Linked DNA regions of Homo sapiens. The protein of the gene in region 1 purifies or fractionates together with the protein of each later gene. This does not show direct contact. Each region holds a gene or a part of one and is shown in the gene's direction. Other genes may lie near its edges.

The links.
Region 2: the proteins of ZXDA (region 1) and PPP6C purify together in Homo sapiens (affinity purification with mass spectrometry, with the first as the bait; one large-scale study listed by BioGRID). This does not show direct contact.
Region 3: the proteins of ZXDA (region 1) and FBXO38 purify together in Homo sapiens (affinity purification with western blotting; one study listed by BioGRID). This does not show direct contact.
Region 4: the proteins of ZXDA (region 1) and SUGT1 purify together in Homo sapiens (affinity purification with mass spectrometry, with the first as the bait; one large-scale study listed by BioGRID). This does not show direct contact.

The regions. Positions count from the first base shown.
Region 1 is NC_000023.11:57,906,384-57,912,419, reverse strand, and holds the start of ZXDA (zinc finger X-linked protein ZXDA), read left to right. Parts: upstream 1-1,961; 5' UTR 1,962-1,999; coding exon 2,000-4,399; 3' UTR 4,400-6,036. UniProt on the Homo sapiens protein: Cooperates with CIITA to promote transcription of MHC class I and MHC class II genes.
Region 2 is NC_000009.12:125,151,188-125,156,647, reverse strand, and holds part of PPP6C (serine/threonine-protein phosphatase 6 catalytic subunit), read left to right. Parts: intron 1-2,662; coding exon 2,663-2,742; intron 2,743-2,905; coding exon 2,906-3,115; intron 3,116-5,460.
Region 3 is NC_000005.10:148,402,776-148,408,235, forward strand, and holds part of FBXO38 (F-box only protein 38), read left to right. Parts: intron 1-1,909; coding exon 1,910-2,047; intron 2,048-3,481; coding exon 3,482-3,619; intron 3,620-5,460. UniProt on the Homo sapiens protein: Substrate recognition component of a SCF (SKP1-CUL1-F-box protein) E3 ubiquitin-protein ligase complex which mediates the ubiquitination and subsequent proteasomal degradation of PDCD1/PD-1, thereby regulating T-cells-mediated immunity.
Region 4 is NC_000013.11:52,658,784-52,664,243, forward strand, and holds part of SUGT1 (protein SGT1 homolog), read left to right. Parts: intron 1-395; coding exon 396-466; intron 467-2,691; coding exon of another isoform or gene 2,692-2,787; intron 2,788-3,865; coding exon 3,866-3,919; intron 3,920-4,312; coding exon 4,313-4,329; intron 4,330-5,251; coding exon 5,252-5,274; intron 5,275-5,460. UniProt on the Homo sapiens protein: May play a role in ubiquitination and subsequent proteasomal degradation of target proteins.

The DNA.
Region 1 (6,036 bases):
TAGTAAAGCTGAGGATATCCATTCCCTATGGCCCTGTGATTCTATTCTTGGATATATACCCTAGAGAGATTTTTACACGTGTCCCATTAGAAATGTGCAAGAATGTTCACAATAATCATTGAAAAGTAGAAGCAATCCTAATCTCCATCTGCTGTAGAATGGAGTGGAATAATCATACAATAATCACTTTGCTATAAGCATATGCTGGAAAGACAGTCGATGGAGACAAAGGATCTACTTACTTATAGCTATTATGAACAACATGGACGAGTCTCTCAAGTATAATACAGAGTGAAAAAAGCAAGCTATAAAAGGAAGCATGCCGTATGATTCCACTTATACAACTTCATATCAACTCTATTGTTTAGGGATGCGTACAAAAGTGATAAAGCTATAAAGGAAAGCAGTGAAATGATTATTACAAAGTCGGAGCAATTACTATATCTATATAGGAGAGTGTGGTTTGTGACTGGAAGGAGTACAGCAGCTGTATTCTGGGAGGTTGGCAGTGGTCTATTGCTTGACCTTGGTCCTGGTTAAGTAGGTGTCTGCTTTTGTAAAATAATCTAAACTATACAGATACGTTATATGCACTCTTCTAATTTCAGATTTGAAAAGTGCTTCCTCCAGAAAAAGTAATAGAAAGAAAAGTATGTGGAGTAGAAATTTTGATGAGGTTCGAATAGTTATGGTTGAAAAACTTGATTTTCAAGAGACCAAGTGTCCACTGTTATTAAAAGAGGGCGAGAGAGCTGGGAGTATTTAAACAACAGGTTACACCCCCCCACCCCCACCACCACCAATCTGTTCATCACTCTAAGCCTTCTCATCTCAGATATTTCACCCTATATTTGTGTCAATTCCAAACTCATTCGTGACAGACAAATTGGAGGATTGTCGTCATCATTAATAAGGACATTAGGCACCAAAGGCCCAGCAAGACTGGGCCACCACACTTAAATGTGAGCAGGTACACCGGGGCGAGTGGACAAGATCGTCTGTGCACATTACTTGGCAGAGTCCATTGAGTGACTGAGGGTTTAACCTTAACACATTTAACTGGAACTCCTGCCCAGAGAATGTGCTGGAGAATGCAGAATAAACTGAGCAATGCCCTCATTGTGCTATGAGAGTGGACATGAAGTTTATCATGGTACAACCGATCGTCGAAGGGCAAAGAGTTGGTTTAGGTTGTGCACTGTATAGGGAGAAGCCAGGGGCGGGTTGGGTTTTTTTCCAGATTTCAGTATAAATTGTTTCATCCTCCAGACTTTGCATTTGTAGGCTGAAGAGTGCTAATCTGTTTTGGCCGCATCTCTCACTCATTCTAATCTCTGTTATCAGCAGACAAAAATTGAACTATGTGGCAAATTGTACCGAGCACTTTGCTCAAGACAATTGTGAGTATGGAAGTTGTCCCGCGCAGAGGTGGGAAGGGGAAGGGCAATTTCCGCAGAAATGCCAGCACTATGGTGGTTTAATGCTGACACAGAGACAGTTTTTTCTCTCAGGAATTGTCTTTCATCCATCAATCCAGCCAGGTAGCCAGCCAATAAACAAATTTTAACACACAAAAAGTATGAAGCAACATGTCTAACACTGGGAGGGGCTGGCGTGTGTTTATTTGGGTATATACAATGAGTCACGGATTAAAATTGCTTTTACCAGATAGATACCTAGGTGTTCCACAGCATTATTGAACAAGATGTCGTCATTTCCCCATTACTTCAGAAGACCTCCTTAATTACTTATATTAATTGTAGAATATATTTATGCATACCAGGCTCTACCTCTGGGCTTTCTATTCCGTTCCAGAGACCCAGTACCAGAATATTTAAATCACTGTGGCGTTGAATACATTTTAATATCTGATAGGGCCAGTTTCTGCGCATTGCACATTTTTTTTTCCCCTTTCAGGAACGTGTTCAGGCCCGCGGCAGGGGGCGGGATCGCGCCTCCTCCTCGGCTCTGGTTCCAGCCGAGCCTCTCGGACGCAGAGATGGAAATCCCGAAGCTGCTCCCGGCTCGCGGGACACTACAGGGCGGCGGCGGCGGCGGTATCCCCGCGGGTGGCGGCCGAGTCCACCGAGGCCCTGACTCGCCGGCTGGCCAGGTCCCCACGCGCCGCCTCCTGCTGCCCCGGGGCCCCCAAGATGGCGGGCCCGGGCGGCGGCGCGAGGAGGCCAGCACGGCATCACGGGGCCCTGGCCCAAGCCTGTTCGCGCCGAGGCCCCATCAACCTAGCGGCGGCGGCGACGACTTCTTCCTGGTGCTGCTTGACCCGGTGGGTGGCGACGTGGAGACCGCGGGCTCCGGTCAGGCCGCAGGGCCTGTGTTGAGGGAGGAGGCCAAGGCGGGCCCGGGGCTCCAGGGGGACGAGAGCGGCGCGAACCCCGCGGGCTGCTCTGCGCAGGGCCCCCACTGCCTGTCCGCGGTTCCCACTCCGGCCCCGATCTCCGCCCCCGGCCCCGCCGCGGCCTTCGCGGGCACAGTCACTATCCACAACCAGGACCTGCTGTTGCGCTTTGAGAACGGCGTCCTCACCCTGGCCACGCCCCCACCACACGCCTGGGAGCCAGGGGCCGCTCCTGCCCAGCAGCCCAGGTGTCTGATCGCCCCCCAAGCTGGGTTCCCGCAAGCCGCGCACCCGGGTGACTGCCCAGAGCTGCGGTCCGACCTCCTGCTAGCCGAGCCCGCAGAACCCGCGCCTGCTCCGGCGCCCCAGGAGGAGGCGGAGGGCCTGGCCGCCGCCCTGGGCCCCCGCGGACTGCTGGGCTCTGGTCCAGGCGTGGTGCTGTACCTGTGCCCCGAGGCGCTGTGCGGGCAAACCTTCGCCAAGAAGCACCAGCTGAAGATGCACCTGCTGACGCACAGCAGCAGCCAGGGCCAGAGGCCCTTCAAATGCCCCCTGGGTGGCTGCGGCTGGACCTTCACCACCTCTTACAAGCTCAAGAGGCACCTGCAGTCGCACGATAAACTGCGGCCCTTCGGCTGCCCTGCGGAGGGCTGTGGCAAGAGCTTCACCACCGTGTACAACCTCAAGGCGCACATGAAGGGCCATGAGCAGGAGAACTCGTTCAAATGTGAGGTGTGCGAGGAGAGCTTCCCCACGCAGGCCAAACTCGGCGCCCACCAGCGCAGCCACTTCGAACCCGAGAGGCCTTACCAGTGCGCGTTTTCTGGCTGCAAGAAGACATTTATCACAGTGAGTGCTCTGTTTTCCCATAACCGCGCCCATTTCAGGGAACAGGAACTGTTTTCCTGCTCTTTCCCTGGCTGCAGCAAGCAATATGACAAGGCTTGTAGGCTGAAAATTCACCTGCGGAGTCACACCGGCGAGAGACCTTTCCTTTGTGACTTTGATGGCTGTGGCTGGAACTTCACCAGCATGTCCAAACTCTTAAGGCACAAAAGGAAGCACGACGATGACCGGAGGTTCATGTGCCCTGTGGAAGGCTGTGGGAAATCTTTCACGAGGGCCGAACATCTGAAAGGCCACAGCATTACCCACCTGGGCACAAAGCCTTTCGTGTGTCCTGTGGCAGGCTGCTGTGCCAGGTTCTCTGCTCGCAGTAGCCTCTACATTCACTCCAAGAAACACCTGCAGGATGTGGACACTTGGAAAAGCCGTTGCCCGATCTCCTCTTGTAATAAACTCTTCACATCCAAGCACAGCATGAAGACGCACATGGTTAAAAGGCATAAGGTGGGCCAGGATCTCTTAGCTCAGCTAGAAGCAGCAAATTCTCTTACACCCAGCAGTGAACTTACCAGCCAGAGACAGAATGATCTCAGTGATGCAGAGATAGTGTCTCTCTTCTCTGATGTACCTGACAGTACTTCTGCTGCATTGCTGGACACAGCATTGGTGAACTCTGGAATCTTGACTATTGATGTGGCTTCTGTGAGCTCGACTCTGGCAGGGCACCTCCCTGCTAATAATAATAATTCCGTAGGGCAGGCTGTGGACCCTCCGTCCTTGATGGCCACCAGCGACCCTCCTCAAAGTCTGGATACCTCTCTCTTTTTTGGAACGGCGGCCACTGGTTTTCAGCAGAGCTCCTTAAATATGGATGAGGTCTCAAGTGTAAGTGTGGGGCCATTGGGATCTCTGGACTCTTTGGCCATGAAAAACTCCAGTCCAGAGCCTCAGGCTTTGACACCCAGCAGTAAGCTAACAGTGGACACAGATACTCTGACTCCTTCGAGCACCCTTTGTGAAAACAGTGTCTCAGAACTACTGACACCAGCCAAAGCGGAGTGGAGCGTACATCCTAACTCTGACTTCTTTGGACAGGAGGGAGAAACCCAGTTTGGATTCCCCAATGCAGCAGGAAACCATGGTTCTCAGAAAGAAAGAAATCTTATCACTGTGACTGGCAGCTCATTTTTGGTATGAAGCAACTCTATTCATTCCTTGCCATGTGGCTAACTTTTATTACAGTCAATTTTGAGGATATTCTGGACTAAATATTTAAGTGCAGTCATTTCTTTTTGGTTTGCAAAAAGAGCACAGCCCTGGACTATGAGTTTGGAGATCTAAATTCTGATCTTGAGTCTGGAACTGACAAGTTGTGTGACCCTCAGCAAGTCACTTAACCTATCTGAGCCTTAATTTCCTTATTTATAAATTGTGGTGGTTTGAACACATTGCTCATAAGGTCTTTTCAGTTTTGTTTTGTTTTGTTTTGTGATTTTGTGCTTTTTCTTGAAAATTTTCGGGCATTTTGCAATTATTATTGTTTGTACTTGTAATCAGAAGCGGTTTGAGCCCTGTAGCACTAAATAATGAAAGATTGAGGAACTGGTGTTTTACATTAAAAATTTAATGGAAATTTTACACAGTACGAAAATCTAATGATAGAGCTCAAAAAAAAAGAGCTAAAAATAGGAGTTGGTTCTTCTTAGCTGTTTATCCTTCTAACCTTTTTTTTAAATGATGAAGGTATGTTTTTGTTGTGGAAAATACAAGGGCTTTTGTTATCACTCAGACCCAGAGTGAAATGTTTGCTTTGTGGTTTTGAATAAGTTGGCCTTTAATAAGTTATTTAGTCTCTCTTAGCCTCAGTTTTCTATCTGTAAAATGGTCATAGCAATGTGAACATATGTGTTACATCCTAGACTTATTTTTCTACCCCAGTAGGTTGTATTGAAAGGAAAATGTTATATGTGTTTCAGCATGTTTTGGTGAATCTTCATTCCCTTTCCTGCCCCTTGTTTTCCCTCCTCAAAGGGGAGAAATTAGCACAAATTAGTATCAGGATTGTGCAGGAAATAAACATTTGTGAAGGTTAAGAAAGAGGAAAAGGAAGTTATTTCTTCAACAGATTAAGGATTTTTCTACACACAGTTCTTTTGTGGCATTGGCCACATGTCCATTAGACCAATTTGATAGTATCTTCGGTCTGCATTCAAAGCCAGCTCATGCAATGAGTATTCAGCCTATTCTTCCAAGACAATCTGGACATAGACCAGAGGGAGATTTTTCTCCCCTCTGTGCCCTAGAGAGCTCATTGCTGGCTTACTCTTAGAGTTGAAATGAGAGGGTTTTGTCTGCATTTTGAGTAGATACCATCTATCTTATGTGAGTATAGCATTTTACAATTTAGCACTTTCACAACTATTATATTTGATCCTCACAATCCTGTGAGGTAATTATGGCAAAGTCAGATCTACAATTCATATTAAAATTTACCTAGCTCAGATTACAAATGTATTTCACTTAGTAATGTGTGTGTGTGTGTGTGTGTGTGTGTGTGTGTAGCTCAAAACAAAGAGGAAATATTTCCCACTCTCCCATTCGACTCTTGAGTTTCATGACTATTTTGTTTATAACTGTTTGCTGCCTCCCACCTTAATTGATTTCTCTTACATTCTTTGTACTCCATGCTATTTCCTTGTAGGTGTACACCAGTCCTTGCCATGAATCTCTTTTACTTACATTTAAATTAGACACGTCTCTTTCATGGTCACCATCTCTCAGCCATTCTTCTTATGGCCCATTTTTCAGTCACAGTATTACTGCAAGTATGTGTG
Region 2 (5,460 bases), on another chromosome or scaffold:
GAAACATTAATTGCAGAACCCTTTAGATTTAAATTTTATATTTTGAATTATCTTCTTTCATTATAAAGATAGGCTGGGCCAGGTGTGGTGGCTCATGCCTGTAATCCCAGTACTTTGGGAGGCTGAGGCAGGCAGATCACAAGGTCAGGAGATCGAGACCATCTTGGCCAACATGGTGAAACCCCGTCTCTACTTAAAATACAAAAATTAGCTGGGCATGGTGGCACTTGCCTGTAGTCCCAGCTATTCGGGAGGCTGAGGCAGGAGAATCCCTTGAACCCGGGAGGTGGAGGTTGCAGTGAGCCGAGATTGCACCATTGCACTCCAGCCTGGATGACAGTGAGGCTGTCTCAAAACGAAACAAAGCAAAGATAATCTGAACTCTCTTACTCTTCAGTTTGTCTGCCATTATCAATTAGAGAAATTTTGAGAATTTATTGTTTTTATATAATTTTTTTAATACGTGTAAAGTTAGGTAATATTTATCTCCTTTCTACAGGTGACTTTTTATTTTCATTCACAAAATAAACACCAATTGAAATACAACTTTTGGATTCTTTTGCAAAATAATCAATATTTTGGATAACATACTATGATATTAGCTCAGTGAAAACAGTACTAAAACTAATGTTATAAAAACACACACACCTACTATATATATGTAACTAATGCTACATGTATAATATATAAAATACATATTGTTATATATGGCTAATATATGACTTTTTTTTTTTTTTTTTTTTGAGACGGAGTCTCGCTCTGTCACCCAGGCTGGAGTGCAGTGGTGCGATCTTCGCTCACTGCAAGCTCTGCCTACTGGGTTCACGCCATTCTCCTGCCTCCGCCTCCCAAGTAGCTGGGACTACAGGCGCCCGCCACCATGCCCGGCTAATTTTTTTGTATTTTTTAGTAGAGACAGGGTTTCACCGTGTTAGCCAGGATGGTCTCAATCTCCTGACCTTGTGATCCGCCCGCCTCGGCCTCCCAAAGTGCTGGGATTACAGGCATGAGGCACTGCGTCCAGCCATATGACATATGTTTTGAATAAGATAATTTTAGTTATTATAGGACTTATATTGATTTTCAAGGAATAAAATATCCCTATATGACTTTACACTGGGACTTCAGTTCACACTGATAAACACATACTGGGCAGTTACTATTGAGCCAAGTTCAAGATCCCTGCCTGCAACCTGAGCTCATTGTTAGGGCTCTCTTATGGCAAGTTTACATAACAATCTTGCTTCACGTAGATATATAATTGAGAAAATCTTGGGGATTGGTCATAACCTGCAGACTTCTTTCCTATATCATTTTCAGCTTCACTTAAGGCAATAGTGATATGTCAGGTTTTTTTTTTTCTAAAATTATGGAAGAAGCCAAAGTACAGAGCTTCCATGGTGTTAACAAAAGAAGTGTGTACCCTATTAACTATGTAGACAGTCAGGGTACAGTGGCTCACATCTGTATTCTCAGCACTGTGGGAGGCTGAGGTAGGAGGATTGCTTGAGCTCAGGAGTTCAAGACCAGCCTGGACAACATAGGGAGATCCCCATCTCTACCAGAAATAAAATTAGCCAGGTGTGGTGGCACTTGCCTGTAGTTCCAGCTGTTCAGAAGGCTGAGGTGGTGGGATCGCTTGAACCCAAGTGGTTGAGGTTGCAGTGAGCTGTGATCGCGCCACTGCTGATTGTGCCACTGTATTCCAACTTGGGCAATAGAGTGAGACCTTGTCTCAAAAACAAAAAACTACGTAGGCAGCAGAAAGAGTGTTCAACTGAGAATTTGTAAGAACCTGATTGGCAATCTGTCCTCAGTTTTGATCCACTGAAGCTCAAGTGTTTAGTCGCACGATTTGCAGAAAATCTCAGAAGAGACAACTTAGCCCTGAGAAGAGTTAGGAATTGCTCATGCTCCTATAACTAAGGATCCTCTAATTTGTTTGATCTGTTTATCCTGCTAGAATTGTCTCCTTAAATAAATTTATCTGCTTACCAGAATTGCCTAATATTAACATAACTGTTAAAACATTTGCTTCAGGTTGTGTGAAATTAGTATTTAACTCTTCTAATGATAGCATTTTGGCTAATAATTTCAGCTGCTTCTTAGGTCCATTCCAGGAATGAAGAGCAGTACTACATCCTTAGGAAATACAGTCATGTGCCACATAATGACATTTCAGTCGATGATGGACTGTATATATGACAGTGGTCCCATAGATAAAACGGAGCTGAAAAATTCCTATTGCACAAATACTTACCATTGTGTTACTATTTCCTTATGATATTTAGTACAGTTACATGCTGCACAAATTTATAGCCTATGAGCAATAGGCTATATCATATTGCCTAGGTGTGTAGTAGGCTAGACCATCTAGGTTTATGTAAGGACATCCGATGATGTTCACACAACGATGAAATCACCTAACAATGCATTTTTTAGAATGTATCCCCATGGTTAAGGGACATACAACTGTATGTAGTTAGTCACTAGCGTTCTTTTGGCTCTATGTGGAGGTCCTAGCAGGACTAAATATGTGTCATATCTTGCTATCCTAGTTTAAGCTGAATTTCTGTTGTACTGAAGGCTGCTCTAGTATTGGATATATTGTTTATTTTTATTAGCAGATTCATTAATTAAAACCCTTCTGTTTCTTTCACAGATGAGTGCCAAACCAAATATGGAAATGCTAATGCCTGGAGATACTGTACCAAAGTTTTTGACATGCTCACAGTAGCAGCTGTAAGTTTCTATTTTTAAAGTCTCATGTACGTTCCTGCCAATAACACATTGCATATTTTTATCTAGTTGTCATCTCAATTATATTGATATCTTTAGTATTCACTGATGAGTTTAGATATGCCTGAGGTTATATGTTCAACTCTTTGTTATCCTTTTTTGCTAGTTAATAGATGAGCAGATTTTGTGTGTCCATGGTGGTTTATCTCCTGATATCAAAACACTGGATCAAATTCGAACCATCGAACGGAATCAGGAAATTCCTCATAAAGGAGCATTTTGTGATCTGGTTTGGTCAGATCCTGAAGATGTGGATACCTGGGCTATCAGTCCCCGAGGAGCAGGTTGGCTTTTTGGAGCAAAGGTCACAAATGAGGTAAAGCCAACATTTTTGGAAATGTAATTTGTGGATTGCTAATGGGCTGCATAGAGAACTATGGTGGCCCTAGATAACAAACTTGTAGTCTAGCTTACTCAAAATATGGTGGCTGTGGATATTAAATTTCTAGTTTAGTTATTAACGTATGTCTTTCTTTAATGGTTAAATAAGATGACACAGTGAAAGCACCTACTCCAGCATCCATTTGGTAATAATGTATAAAGTAAATGTTCTTTCCTTTTTTTTTTGTTTTTGAGATGGAGTCTTGCTCTGTCGCCTAGGCTGGAGTGCAGTGGCGTGATCTTGGCTCACTGCAACAACCTCTGCCTCCCAGGTTCAAGCCATTCTCCTGCCTCAGCCTCCTGAGTAGCTGGGACCACAGGTGTGCGCCACCATGCCTGGCTAATTTTTGTATTCTTAGTAGAGATGGGATTTCACCGTGTTGGCTAGGCTGGTCTTGAACTCCTGACCTCAGGTGATCCACCCGCCTCAGCCTCCCAAAGTGCTGGGATTATAGGTGTGAGCCACCGCACCCGGCCAGCCCCTTTCCTTTCAAGTACTGTAGTTAAGTAACAAAATGGCAAGACCAAGATAGGCAATACTTTTTTTTTTTTTTCTCAAAGACCTCAAATCACACAGATACAGACACTTTATTAGTTTCCTCTACAAGAGACAATAACATGAATCTTTTTTTTTTTGAGACAAGAGTTTCGCTCATGTTGCCCAGGCTGGAGTACAATGGTGCAATCTCGGCTCACTGCAACCTCTGCCTCCTGGATTCAAGCGATTCTCCTGTCTCAGCCTCCCGAGTAGCTGGGATTACAGGTGTACACCACCACGCCTGGCTAATTTTGTATTTTTAGTAGAGACGGGGTTTCACCATGTTGGTGAGGCTGGTCTTGAACTCCTGACCTCAGGTCATCTGCCCACCTTGGTCTCCCAAGGTGCTGGGATTACAGGCGTGAGCCACCGCGCCCAGCCTACGTCAAATCTTTTTTTTCTTTTTAACAGAAATCTCTGTTCATTTGAAAAGCCAAATAGATCCAAAGAAAGAAGATGAAAATTAAATACTTAAATTAATCAAAAGGCACTATGATACCACCTAAAACCTACTGCCACAGTGGTAGTAGGCTAAGGAAGATCAAGCTACAGCAAATCATGTAATGTGAATGTTAGCGATTACATAGCAGGAAGCACATTTGCTTTCCAGAAGACTACGGTACAGTGTTCATTTGGGCCCAAGAGGATCTTTGGCCAGGAAAGGATCAAGATGGATGAAGGTAAAGCCAAATCAAAGGAGTAGGTACAAAAGAGAATCCAAGCTACATAGTCAAGCAGATGATGATGGATCAGGCTTCTTCCTCCCAAGAAACATTTGCTGCGCTGTGCTGCCTCCCCCCTCAACCACCCCCCACCCCCTACCCCATGGCTGCTCAAGCCCAACTGCCTACTCCTGCCTTACAGGGTGCTCAGCCACCGGGACTAGGTTTGGGGTTGCCCAGGGCTCTTGCCATAATTTAGCATAGACCTTGGGGAGAACTGCTCACACATGGGTTGGCTTTGCTGCTGGTTGTTCTCAACAAAGAAAACCCTGAAGCATTCACATGCAGAGTAGTCTGAGCTTCTCCAGTCACAGTCAAACACCCCCACACAACATCCTCAAAAGTCTGAAATCTTGTAACAGCTGAGCTATAGTTAAAGCTGCAAGGCTCACAGAATCATCAAGGAAGCCAGAATGAGACAATGCAGATAGGAAGTCCCAGCAGTTAATCTCAATCCTTCTTTCTTCATTTCGGATAAGCTCAGATATACCTGATGTGGGATATAGAAAGCTACACTGGAGCAAGCTGGGTCTTCTGCTGAATTCGTCATCAAATACCAAGGGAAAACAAGGGGTGGGGTGGATTTTATTCTTAAAAAGCCTCAGAAGTTACTGTATTATAAAGGGACATGACTGAATAGGTAAGAAACGGATTCTTCATTGTGAATTTTCCTGATGGCTTCTGCAAGGCTCATAGAGATGTTGATCACCTGTATTTTGGAATGGTGCTTCATCTTGTCCTCCTGGGGTATGTTATTGGTGACTACTACTGCTTTAAAGCATGCGTTGTTGATGTGAGAAATAGCTGGACCAGAGAAGATTCTGTGAGTCAAGATAGCATAAACTTTGGTGACTCCAGCTGAGAGAAGTTTGTCAGCTGCATGGCAGATTGTGCCACAAGTGTCAACCATGTCATCCGCAAGGATGGCCACCAGATCCTTCACATCTCCCACAAGCACCATGCGGTCGACTTCATTGGCCTTCTTTGTGAATCAAGGCAAAGTCCACATTCAGCCTGTCT
Region 3 (5,460 bases), on another chromosome or scaffold:
TGTAAATATTTTCTCAAATTTGTCACCTTTGGCTTAGGCCACTGAAAGGAATTCGGGGGTCCCTGTTAATATAGCTGGCCTTTAATATTTGTTTACTACTTTATTCTGTATATATACACACACATACACAGAGAGAGAGAGAGTATATGTGTTTTAAGCATTATTCTAGGTATTGGGGATGGTCTAAAGAAGTGGAAATTTCTGAAACTCAGGTGGTACAGGGAGAGCATCAGGAATGATAAGGAGTAGGTCTTAAATAAGACTTAGATACACAATTATGGGAGAAGAGTAAAGATTTCTAGCAACCCTTCATTTATAAGATCAGGGAGTGATATCTAGTTTGAAATTGGATTTTTAGATGTAAAAGGATTCTGTAATATCTGGAATTTATAATATAAGCTCCTTAAGGTCAAAGACTTATTTCCATATCTTTATATTTTCTACAATGCCTGTCACAGTTCATTGCAAATATAAGTACAGGGTAAGTTTTATTAAAATGCATTAATTTATGGGAATCATTTAACAGTTTAACACTGTATTATGGTGATGCAGAGGTGTGGTAAATTAATAAAAATAAACATTACCAGGAGAATGGGCAGTTATGTCCTTTGTTTATAGAGTTTGTTTGAGACAGAAAGTGGTTTGGGCCTGGGGTATACTGTCTTCTCTGCATCTGTCTCACCCTTCTTCCTTGGGTTTCCTAATCAGTACAATCAGTACTACCATCTTCATAGTATTACAATATATGCTAAATTTAACCTTTGTGACTTCTGCATCTTACATCTCAATCTGTACCTCACTTCTGCTTTTTGTCCTTTTGTCTCATCCTTAATTTTACTTCCCATTTGTTGCTATACAATGTGTGTGCATAGTTCAAACTAAATTTAACTCTGCTATTTTGAGAGGAACAAGTTAAGGGGTAATCCTTGTAGGTTACAATAAGAACATTTGGTAGAATTTAGCCTTTATAAACAACTGACCATTCAAGTACTGCAATTTTACATTCTCTAGTTATTCTTGCTAGCAGAGCTCCTATTGTCTCAAATTTAAAAATTGCATTAAACAGTTTTGCCAACTACTGTTTGTTAAATGCCATCATCCTGGATCCTTGGATTTCTTTAATAAATTTGTGTCCCTTCCTTGGCTTTTATCTTCTTTCATCCATATTTCCTGTATTTTTTCACCTCACGCTACACCTCCCTTCTTCTGGTCATGGTCCTCTGTGGATATGATTCCTAGTATTAAGCCACTCCTGGATCCCATGCATCAAATTACCTTTACCAATTTGAAATTCTAAAATAAATGACTGGCAGGTTTCTGCTTTTCTCAGAGCCATGCTGGCTGGCTTCTCCCACACATTTACAAATTCTTAAGATTCATATATTTATAGAAAACAGCTTTTAAAGTTCTGTGTTTGGCTATCTTCCAGATATCTATTTGCATATTTAAACCCATCTAGCTGACTTTGCTCTGAGAAATATAGTTCTCCTACTAGGGGGCAGTGGATGTTGGTAGTCAAATAGTAAATTTGTGTGTTCCATCTCCATCGTTATAGTTTTGCTTTCAGTAATCCATTTTCACTTTACCTCTTCTGGGAAAACGTATCCTAGAAGAGTTGTAAGATTATGAGAAAGACTTACATGTCTAAGACATAGAAATACTTTTTAAACTCTATCTTCCCATTGGCCTTTCCTAAAAAAGTTAAGTCAGTTTATGGTTTACGTAAACTGTTCTTTGTAAGCCTGTTTTAAATAAGGCAAACTTGATAGATTTTGTATAATTTGTTCGGATAAAAATCCTTGAAGGTTAAGCTGTTAATATGAAAAATAGACTCTTGAACTTATAAGCAAAATATAGTATATTTTTGTGATTTTTTTCTTGTTTGTTCTTTTTTATATTTGTGTTTTAGGGGTGAATGTTCCTGAAATTCCTTGTATCCCAATGCTAAGGCACCTTTATATGAAGTGGGTAAGACTCACTAAACCACAGCCATTTAAAGACTTCCTTTGTATCAGCTTAAGAACTTTCGTCATGAGGAACTGTGCAGGTAATGGTACACAATTATGGTGGAATTAAACATAAGTTATTCTAAAAATATCCTGAAGCAAACTCTAGCTACATTTGTAAATACAATTATATTATGCTATTACTATTTATGTCTTATAACATATTCATCTTGTGAAGATAAATGTACTTTTTGTTTTAAAGACATTAGAAAGATGATTTGTGTTTGACCTCAGCAAAAAAAAAAAAACAAAACTCAGAATATCTCTATTTTTTACGGGTACTTTTTACTTTTCCTAGGATTGTTTTATTAAATTTCAGTCTTCTTACTTTGTTTCTGGTCTCCGAATCATTCTGCATGTAAATAGTTGGCTTCCTTAATCTCCCTTAAACATAGCTTTTATGGTATTATCCTTCTAAACAGAAATCTTTAGTGTCCCTGTTGCCCTAGAGCAAGCTTGTTCAACCCACGGTCCACTGGCCACAGCCCACATGATGCCCAATACAAATTCTTAAACTTTCTTAAAACATTATGAGATTTATGCATAGGCTTTTTCTTCTTCTTCTTCTTTTTCTTTCCTGCTCATCAGCTATCTTTAATATCAAGACAATTTTTCCTCTTCCAATGTGGCCCAAGGCAATTTTTCCTCTTCCAGTGTGGCCCAGTGATGTCAAAATATTGGACACCGCTGCACTAGAGCATTAAGTGGGAACTACTCTGCTTAAGGTCATGATAACCAGGACCCCTCTTGATAACCTTATTCTGACACCTTTCCAAGATATATCTTCTTTTATCATCACATTTGACTATTCATTGTTCCCTGGTCAGCCATACAGCTTTCCATCTCAATGTCTTCTCTTATGCTGTATTATTGTTTCGTTATCCTGAGATGTGCACTTTCTTCCTCTGTTTTTGTATGCGTTCTTCAGGTTCTGCCTTTTCCAACTTACTTTTCTCCTCTTTCTTTTTCTTTTTCATGGAGTATGGCAGATCTTATTTTTACACTTGATGCAGTCTGCCTTCTTATCCTTCTATAATTACTTATGTTAGTTCTAGCTCCATGTCAACTGCAGGTTTTTTGATGGACAGGACCATATCTTTTGTGATCTTCTATAGTAGCTAATGCAACACTGGTCATAGAGATGATTAAATGATTGAGCTGTTTACTTGAGTGAAGGATCAAATTTTTATCTTGACTTTTTCCCATTAGTTAGTTTGAGTTCAAAACTATTGAGCCTTTAGAGAATTTACGGAATACTACATATCTCTACAGTGTTACTGAAAAACCTTTATGCTGAGTAAGTGTATGGTTAATAGGCTAACACTTTCATTTGTAACAAGAACCTGATTTCAGAGAGCCAATTTGGCTGTCATTTTAAGACTTAGAGTTTATAAGTTATACATGTCTTTCACTGATTTGAAATTCATTTTAAGGCACTTTACATTGTTCTATCAAAGATTTTTTTTTTTTTCCAGGACCCACAAATTCCTTGAAATATGTCCCTTTAGTAACAGGCTTAGCCTCTGCCCGAAACTTGGAACACTTAGAAATGGTTCGAGTTCCTTTCCTTGGAGGTCTTATCCAACATGTTGTTGAAGACAGTTGGAGATCAGGTATTCATTTTCTTTAATTACTAAATATTTTTTAAAAATCAACTTAAAATAATCATTAAGCTTTTATTTAACTTCCCTGGCAAGTCTTTAAAAAGAAAATGCTCGTCAGTAACTGCTTTCTTTGTTGTATTTGATGGACAGTAAGTAACCATGAGCATAGCTAGTATTCATTTTCTTTTGGTGCACATTAAACTTTCTTAAAATAGACAGTAGAGTGATAAGACATGTTTTCTGGCTTGTTTTGACTTTTATGTAGCTAATAATACCTCCTCTTATGTATGGAATCTTTCTTAGAAATGTTAACAGGGATTTCTAGCGTTCTTTGGTGATGTTTTACAACTTGTACAGCCGAGGCTTCCAAAAAAAATTTAGGCATTAATAATGTTAATCTCTATCACATAATACTTTATAATATAAAAAATACTTTTATACATATTACTTGGATATTGATTTACCCATCAGATGATGATATTTAAAAGAAAAAAGTTGTTCTGTGTATACTTAACTATAGATAAATAATACGTAACAGAATGTGCTTTGTGTTAAACATCTCATTGCAGAAAAAAAATAGTGGTTTAGCAAAATGGATGATTAATAGTTGGAAACCAAAAACTTAACTTTGGCTCTCTAAAATAAAATGGAAAGTCATCAAGTACCATTGTTAACAAACAGACATTATAGTTAATACTGTTGAAATATAATGAAGAGTAAACACTACATTTCTAGACATTTTGTCAGTCAAGTGTGGTATAAGTGTACTTTATTACATTTAGCCAGTGGGATGAAACAACCCCTTAAAACCAACAGTATTTTGATTGATGGCGATAGTTAACAAGATAAAAGTCAAAAACGAAAAGAAGGCTACTGGTGTATTCACTAGAGAGAAGACCTGTAGAGAGGTGCTAAAAGCTGAGTTTGTATAAAGGTCCTAAAAGAAAAACAGAGACTTTTCTTCTCTAATCAGTTTTTAAGGGTGACCCTGCCTTGTATTTTACTCAAGAAGTCAACATACCTCACACAAAAATTTATTCTAGATGGGTCATAGATTCAGATGAGAACAATTTTGAAATGAAATTTAAAAAAATAACTTAGAAGAATGTCTTGTTGACCTTGAGTACACAAAGACATCTTAAACAGGACACCAAAAAGCATTTACCATAAAGAAAATATTGATAAATTGTACCAAATTAAAATTAAAATTTTTTTTTTTTTGTCCATCAAAAGGCATGATTGAGAGAGTGAAAAACCGGCCGGGCGCAGTGGCCCACGCCTGTAATCCCAGCACTTTGGGAGGCCGAGGCGGGCGGATCATGAGGTCAGCAGATCGAGACCATCCTGGCTAACGTGGTGAAACCCCGTCTCTACTTAAAAATACAAAAAATTAGCCCGTCGTGGTGGCGGGCACCTGTAGTCCCAGCTACTCGGGAGGCTGAGGCAGGAGAATGGCGTGAACCTGGGAGGCAGAGCATGCAGTGAGCCTAGATCGCACCACTGCACTCCAGCCTGGGTGAGAGAGTGAGACTCTGTCTCAAAAAAAAAAGAGAGAGAGAGAGTGAAAAACCAAGCTACAGAATGGGAGAAGCTGTTTGCAATACAGATACTGGGTATTGGGAAGATATAAAGGACTCCTGGAATGAATAAGAAAAAGGCAGGCAACTCAATAGAAAAAATGGGAGAAGACTTGAATAGAAAAGTTTGCACACAAGAAGCCAATAAACATGAAAAAACGATAAAAGTTTACTAATCGTTAGGGAAATGCAAATTGAAACTACAGTGTGATATTCAAGCACTAAAATGACTATGCCTACTCGTGACTAATATGAAAAAGATAAAAACAGTAA
Region 4 (5,460 bases), on another chromosome or scaffold:
TTGACTGGACAACATCCTATTCAGCAAAGCTGAATAGGCTACATTTAATGCTATGAAAGCGCTATATCTGTATACTTTATATCCCATCTTGTTTCTGTTGATAAGTATAACTATTCTTTAAGAAACTTCTTTAATTCCTTTGTATAATTATATTTTTGAGTAAGCAAGTCTGTACAATTAAAGTCAGATTCCTTCTGAAGTGAGTTCTAAAATTGAATTTTAGTAGGAATTGTACTAGATCTTAACAGTATATTAGAAAGTCTCTAGGTTTATTAACATACACTTAAAATAAATTTTTTCTTTCAACAGTAGAAAATACTAAGTTTTTTATTTAGAAAGAAGGTATTTTCCAGATTTTTTGTGTGTCTTAATTTGTTTTAAATATATTCATGCAGAATATGTGAATACCATGAAAAAAACTATGCTGCTGCCCTAGAAACTTTTACAGAAGGACAAAAATTAGATAGTAAGTATTAAAAATTATACTTTAATAAACTTATCTATTTCTGTCTTAAATACCAAAGCTGAATTTTGGTAATGTTAATTTCAAGTTAATTGTAGAAACCCAATACCTGTTTTTCTCATCTAAATTATATTTCATATTGATTGCAGATATGAGATCACTTAAAATCGATTAAATTAGCCTTTTGGCATTTAAATCATAGATGAACTTCACCATTAGAAGTAAAAAAAACTATGGAAACACCTAACATGCTCTCTCTGTTTAGTCTGGCTTTGTTTTTTTCTAATGGAGAAGTGAAAGTTTAATTTGCCTTGGTCAGAAGTCTGTTCATTTTAAATTATTCAGATTGCTGAGATGTGAAATCTTAACATTAAAGGTTTTTATGGAGAAGTGAAGTGTACGTTTGGGTAAATTATGAGAGGGTACAGAAGAAACACAGTTTTGAGAGTATTGTGACTTTTAATGTTATATTCTTGAGGGAATATATGAAAAGTATCACAGTGGTGTGGATATCTAGACATATAGAAATTGTGAGAGTCAAGAATATATATATATATATATATATATATTTTTTTTTTTTTTTTTTTTTTTTTTTTTTTTGAGACGGAGTCTCACTCTGTCGCCCAGGCTGGAGTGCAGTGGCGCGATCTCGACTCACTGCAAGCTCTGCCTCCCGGGTTCACGCCATTCTTCTGCCTCAGCCCCCCGAGTAGCTGGGACTACAGGCGACCACCACCACGCCCGGCCAATTTTTTTGTATTTTTAGTAGAGATGGGGTTTCACCATGTTAGCCAGGATGGTCTCAATCTCCTGACCTTGTGATCCACCCTCCTCGGCCTCCCAAAGTGCTGGGATTACAGGCATGAGCCACTGCACCCAGCCGAGAGCCAAGAATTTTTAAATCTGAAAAATACTAAGAGGTTGTGAGTAATTTCAGAAAATTGGAGACTACATAATCCTACTTGTATTATCATTTTATCTTTATGTTATGATAGAGTTTTATCACAGTTCTCTAAAGAAGTGGTTCTTAACTGGAAACGGTTTTGCTTCCCAGGAAACTTTATGCAATGTCTGAAGAGATTTTTGATAATCATGAATGGTGGATGGGGGTTGTGCTACTGACATCTAATGAGTATAAACCAGGGGTGCTACTAAATATTCTATAATGCCCAGGACAGTTCTGCCTAACAAAGAAGTATATGGTCCAAAATGTCAGTAGTGCTGAAATTAAGAAACTTCACTCTTAGTATTTTATGTTACATTCTTACTCTGTACTGTTTTGAATGTTTGCCTTTCTGTTGTGTACCTATTCAGAAAAAAGGATTTTAGCACTGATTATGCAAATGGAAGCTACAAATTAAAAAAGGAGAGGTCTGGGTGATAAGGCTTATTCTCAAACTTGCTTATCCCAGTTTTGGTATGTGAATAGTAGGCCTATTCAGTCAGCAAACAGGACATCTGCACTCTTAGCAAATTCTAGAGTGAAGTTATGTAGTGCCTTGGTACCTAATGTGAAAATCCTGAAGAAACATGAGTCATACCATTCTCTACATTTTCATTTTTCTTTCTTTTTTTAGCGAGAGAAGGTCTCGCTCTGTCGCCCAGGCTGGAGTGCAGTGGTGCGATCTTGGGTCACTGCAGCCTCCACCTCTTGGGCTCAAGTGATCCTCCCACCTCAGCCTCCTGAGTAACTGGGGCTACAGGCACATGCCACCACACCTGACTAATTTTTGCATTTTATTTTTTGCAGAGATGGGGATTTGCCATGTTGCCCAGGCTGGTCTTGAACTCCTGGACTCAAGCGTTCTGCCTGCCTCGGCCTCTGAAAGTGCTGGGGTTACAGGCATGAGCCACTGCGTCTGGCCCCTAGATTATTTTCTTGAGTAATATCTTAATATCATGCCATTGACATTTATTCTTTAGTTATTTCAGAGGTGGCCTTCAGAGGAAGACCTGTTTGGTAAAATTGCTGTTGAGGATATTTTACTTAAAAATAAATTTGTCTTTAAATCCAGGAAACTTTTTTTGTTGTTGTTTTTTGGGGTTTTTTTTTGTTTTTGTTTGTTTGTTTGTTTGTTTCTTTTTTTGAGACTGAGTCTCACTGTGTTGTCCAGGCCATAGTGCAGTTCTCTGTCTCTCAAGTTCAGGTGATTCTCCTGCCTCAACCTCCTGAGCAGCTGGGACTACAGGCATGCACCACCAAGCCTGGCTAATTTTTGTATTTTTAGTAGAGACGGGGTTTCATCGTGTTGGCCAGGCTGGTCTCCAACTCTTGACCTCAAGTGATCCACCTGCCTTGGACTCCCAAAGTGCTGGGATTACAGGTATGAGCCACCATGCCCGGCCAAAATCTGGGAAAAAGTTAAGTTAAACTTTTAGGCTTCTATTTTTATCAGACAGGGTAAAGAATTGTTACCTTTTCCCCTCTTTGTGTGATAAATTGCTTGGTTTTAGTTACTGATTACTTAAAATAATAGGTTACTCAAATCTTTTTGATATAATAGATTTTGATACAATAGTTCTCTAGAATACAGTGTGTGTGAGAGTGTATTTAAATTTTTTATTAATGCTGGTATAGTTGGATTTCTTTTATAAATTAGTAAAGTAGAAATTTTTGTTAAGAAATTTTTAATTTAAGATTTTCAAATTTATCTTGTCTGCAGTTAACTTGAATTAATAAGCTCTTATTTAGAGTACTTTTAATACTTTTAACATATCTTACTATGCACTGTGACTGTTTAAATGTAATCATTGTTCTGTGTCTCCAGAAGTGAATAATTTGTTTATGCATACATTTACACTGTTATCTATAAATATATAATACATCACCTATAGCCTCTCGACTGCCATGTAACTTGGAGATAGGACAAAACTTCACGGAATTTAAAGATGCTTGGTGTTGGTAGGAAAGGCATGGTAACAGATAAAGCCACTGAGAGAATAGTGGACTGAATAGGTATCTGCATTGAAGAGCAAGCTGGGGCTGGGAACGGCTTTTGAACCTCAACTCAGCTCCCAGTTACCAAGCCTCCTCCCCACCCTAACTGATGGCATATTGGGAGTCTGATTTACATCTGATTTTGTTCTGTGTGTGAGGAAGCTTCTCTAAGAGCAGCGGGATTGGGGGAAATGCAGATTATTTGTATCTGTGAAATTAAGGTTGACTGTAGTTAAAATTTTTAAAAAATCAAAATGTTTCATGATTAACAACTAAATGTTAAACTATTGGTATATTTATAACTATAGTAGAGTTGGTGATAAGGTCTGTTAAGACAGGTTTTGTTCGCTGCCGACTCCCCAGTGCCTAGAACACTGCCTGGGATGTAGTAGGTATTCAGTAAGTATTTGTTGATTTATAGGTTGTGCAGATGAGTGATGTTATAGTCAGTTTTTTCTTTCTAGGTGCAGATGCTAATTTCAGTGTCTGGATTAAAAGGTGTCAAGAAGCTCAGAATGGTATGTGGGTCTCCCTTGGTATTTGTTTCAATTTAAAAAGAAGTAAACATCTGAAATTTTTTTGGTTTAAACAAATTTGTTTTTATCTTTATAATTTCTTTTAAATAGTATACGTTTCCTTAGATGTGGACTTCCAAAGATACACTGGTTTTTGCATAGCTTCTTATGTTGAAAGGGGGATTTGGGTGGATTTGCTTGTATGGTATATCAGTAAGAAATTACTAAGGAGTCTAAAATGAATTCAGGATGCAAAATGAAACCACTTTTCTTTAGTTGAAAGGTACGGAGAATTTGCTTGCTTAATCAGTATGTTTGTGCTATAGAAATCATACAAATAACTTTGCTTAAAAATGCACTGTTCCCTGAAAATGTTTCCTTTTTATGTTTTAATAGGCTCAGAATCTGAGGTGGTAAGTCCAAAGTTTTCATTCTTCATGTTTTTATTATTTTAAATTTCAGCTACCAAATATATTTGAGACAAGACTCAGGATGAGCTGTCTGATATTTAAATATTAAGCAATTCCATTTAAGTGCTGGTTCCTCTAGGCACTGAAATAAAATCATTTTTTGATAAATATAGAAGTTTCCAGTCATGAAAATTATTGGCCTATTTTAATGAATTTAGTGTGTGGTTAAAGTTGATTTCGTGTGTTTTAATATGGTCATGATGATCATTTATCTTTTCGTTACTAAAACCTTATTGCATTTATTTAGGTTCAACAGTTTGAATCACTTGTAGGGCTTTTTATGATAGGCTAAGACAAAAGTTAAAGAAAATTGGAAATTGACAGGGTCTTGCTCTGTCATGCAGGCTGGAGTGCAGTGGTGCCATCATAGTGCACTTGAGCTTCAAACTCCTGGGCTCAAGCAATCTTCCCACCTCAGCCTTCCAAGTAGCTGGGACTACAGATGTACACCACCAAGCCTGGCTAATTACTCTGTTTCTTTAAAACGATTTTTAAAACAATGTTATTTTAGTTTAGGAAGTTGCTGAATCTTAGAACTGGCCATTTTATATAAGCAACCTTTTCTAATCATGCCTTTAGAAGTTTTCTGTTATTTAAAGTTCTGTTATTTTAGAGCAAAAATCTTTTATGAAATTCAATCTAAGATTTTTTAAATGCTGAGCATTCTAATTTTTTTCCGAAAACTAGTGGTATTTAACAATTACAGTTACTATGTCTTTGAAGAAAATTTTCATGTAGTTATTTTATATCAAAATAACTGCAGTGTTGGGTAAATTAATAATACATGCATTTTAATAATACAGTTGCTAAACTGACTTGTAAAAATCTTTCTCTTTCAACTTACCAAAATCAATCTGCATCCCAGTGGACTCATCAGTCAAAAATCAAGTGAGTGTTTCTTTTTCATAAAACAATGCATGATAAATATGCCTAAAGAGGAAGAAACCCTGTAGTTTAATAGTAAGCAAATTCTTACCATGTGATTTTTAAGTTTTTGTTTGTTTTCTAAAATTGTGTAATAGCTTTATGTAAAGCCAATTTTAAGGCTGTTTAAGGATTAATATTTGTACTTCA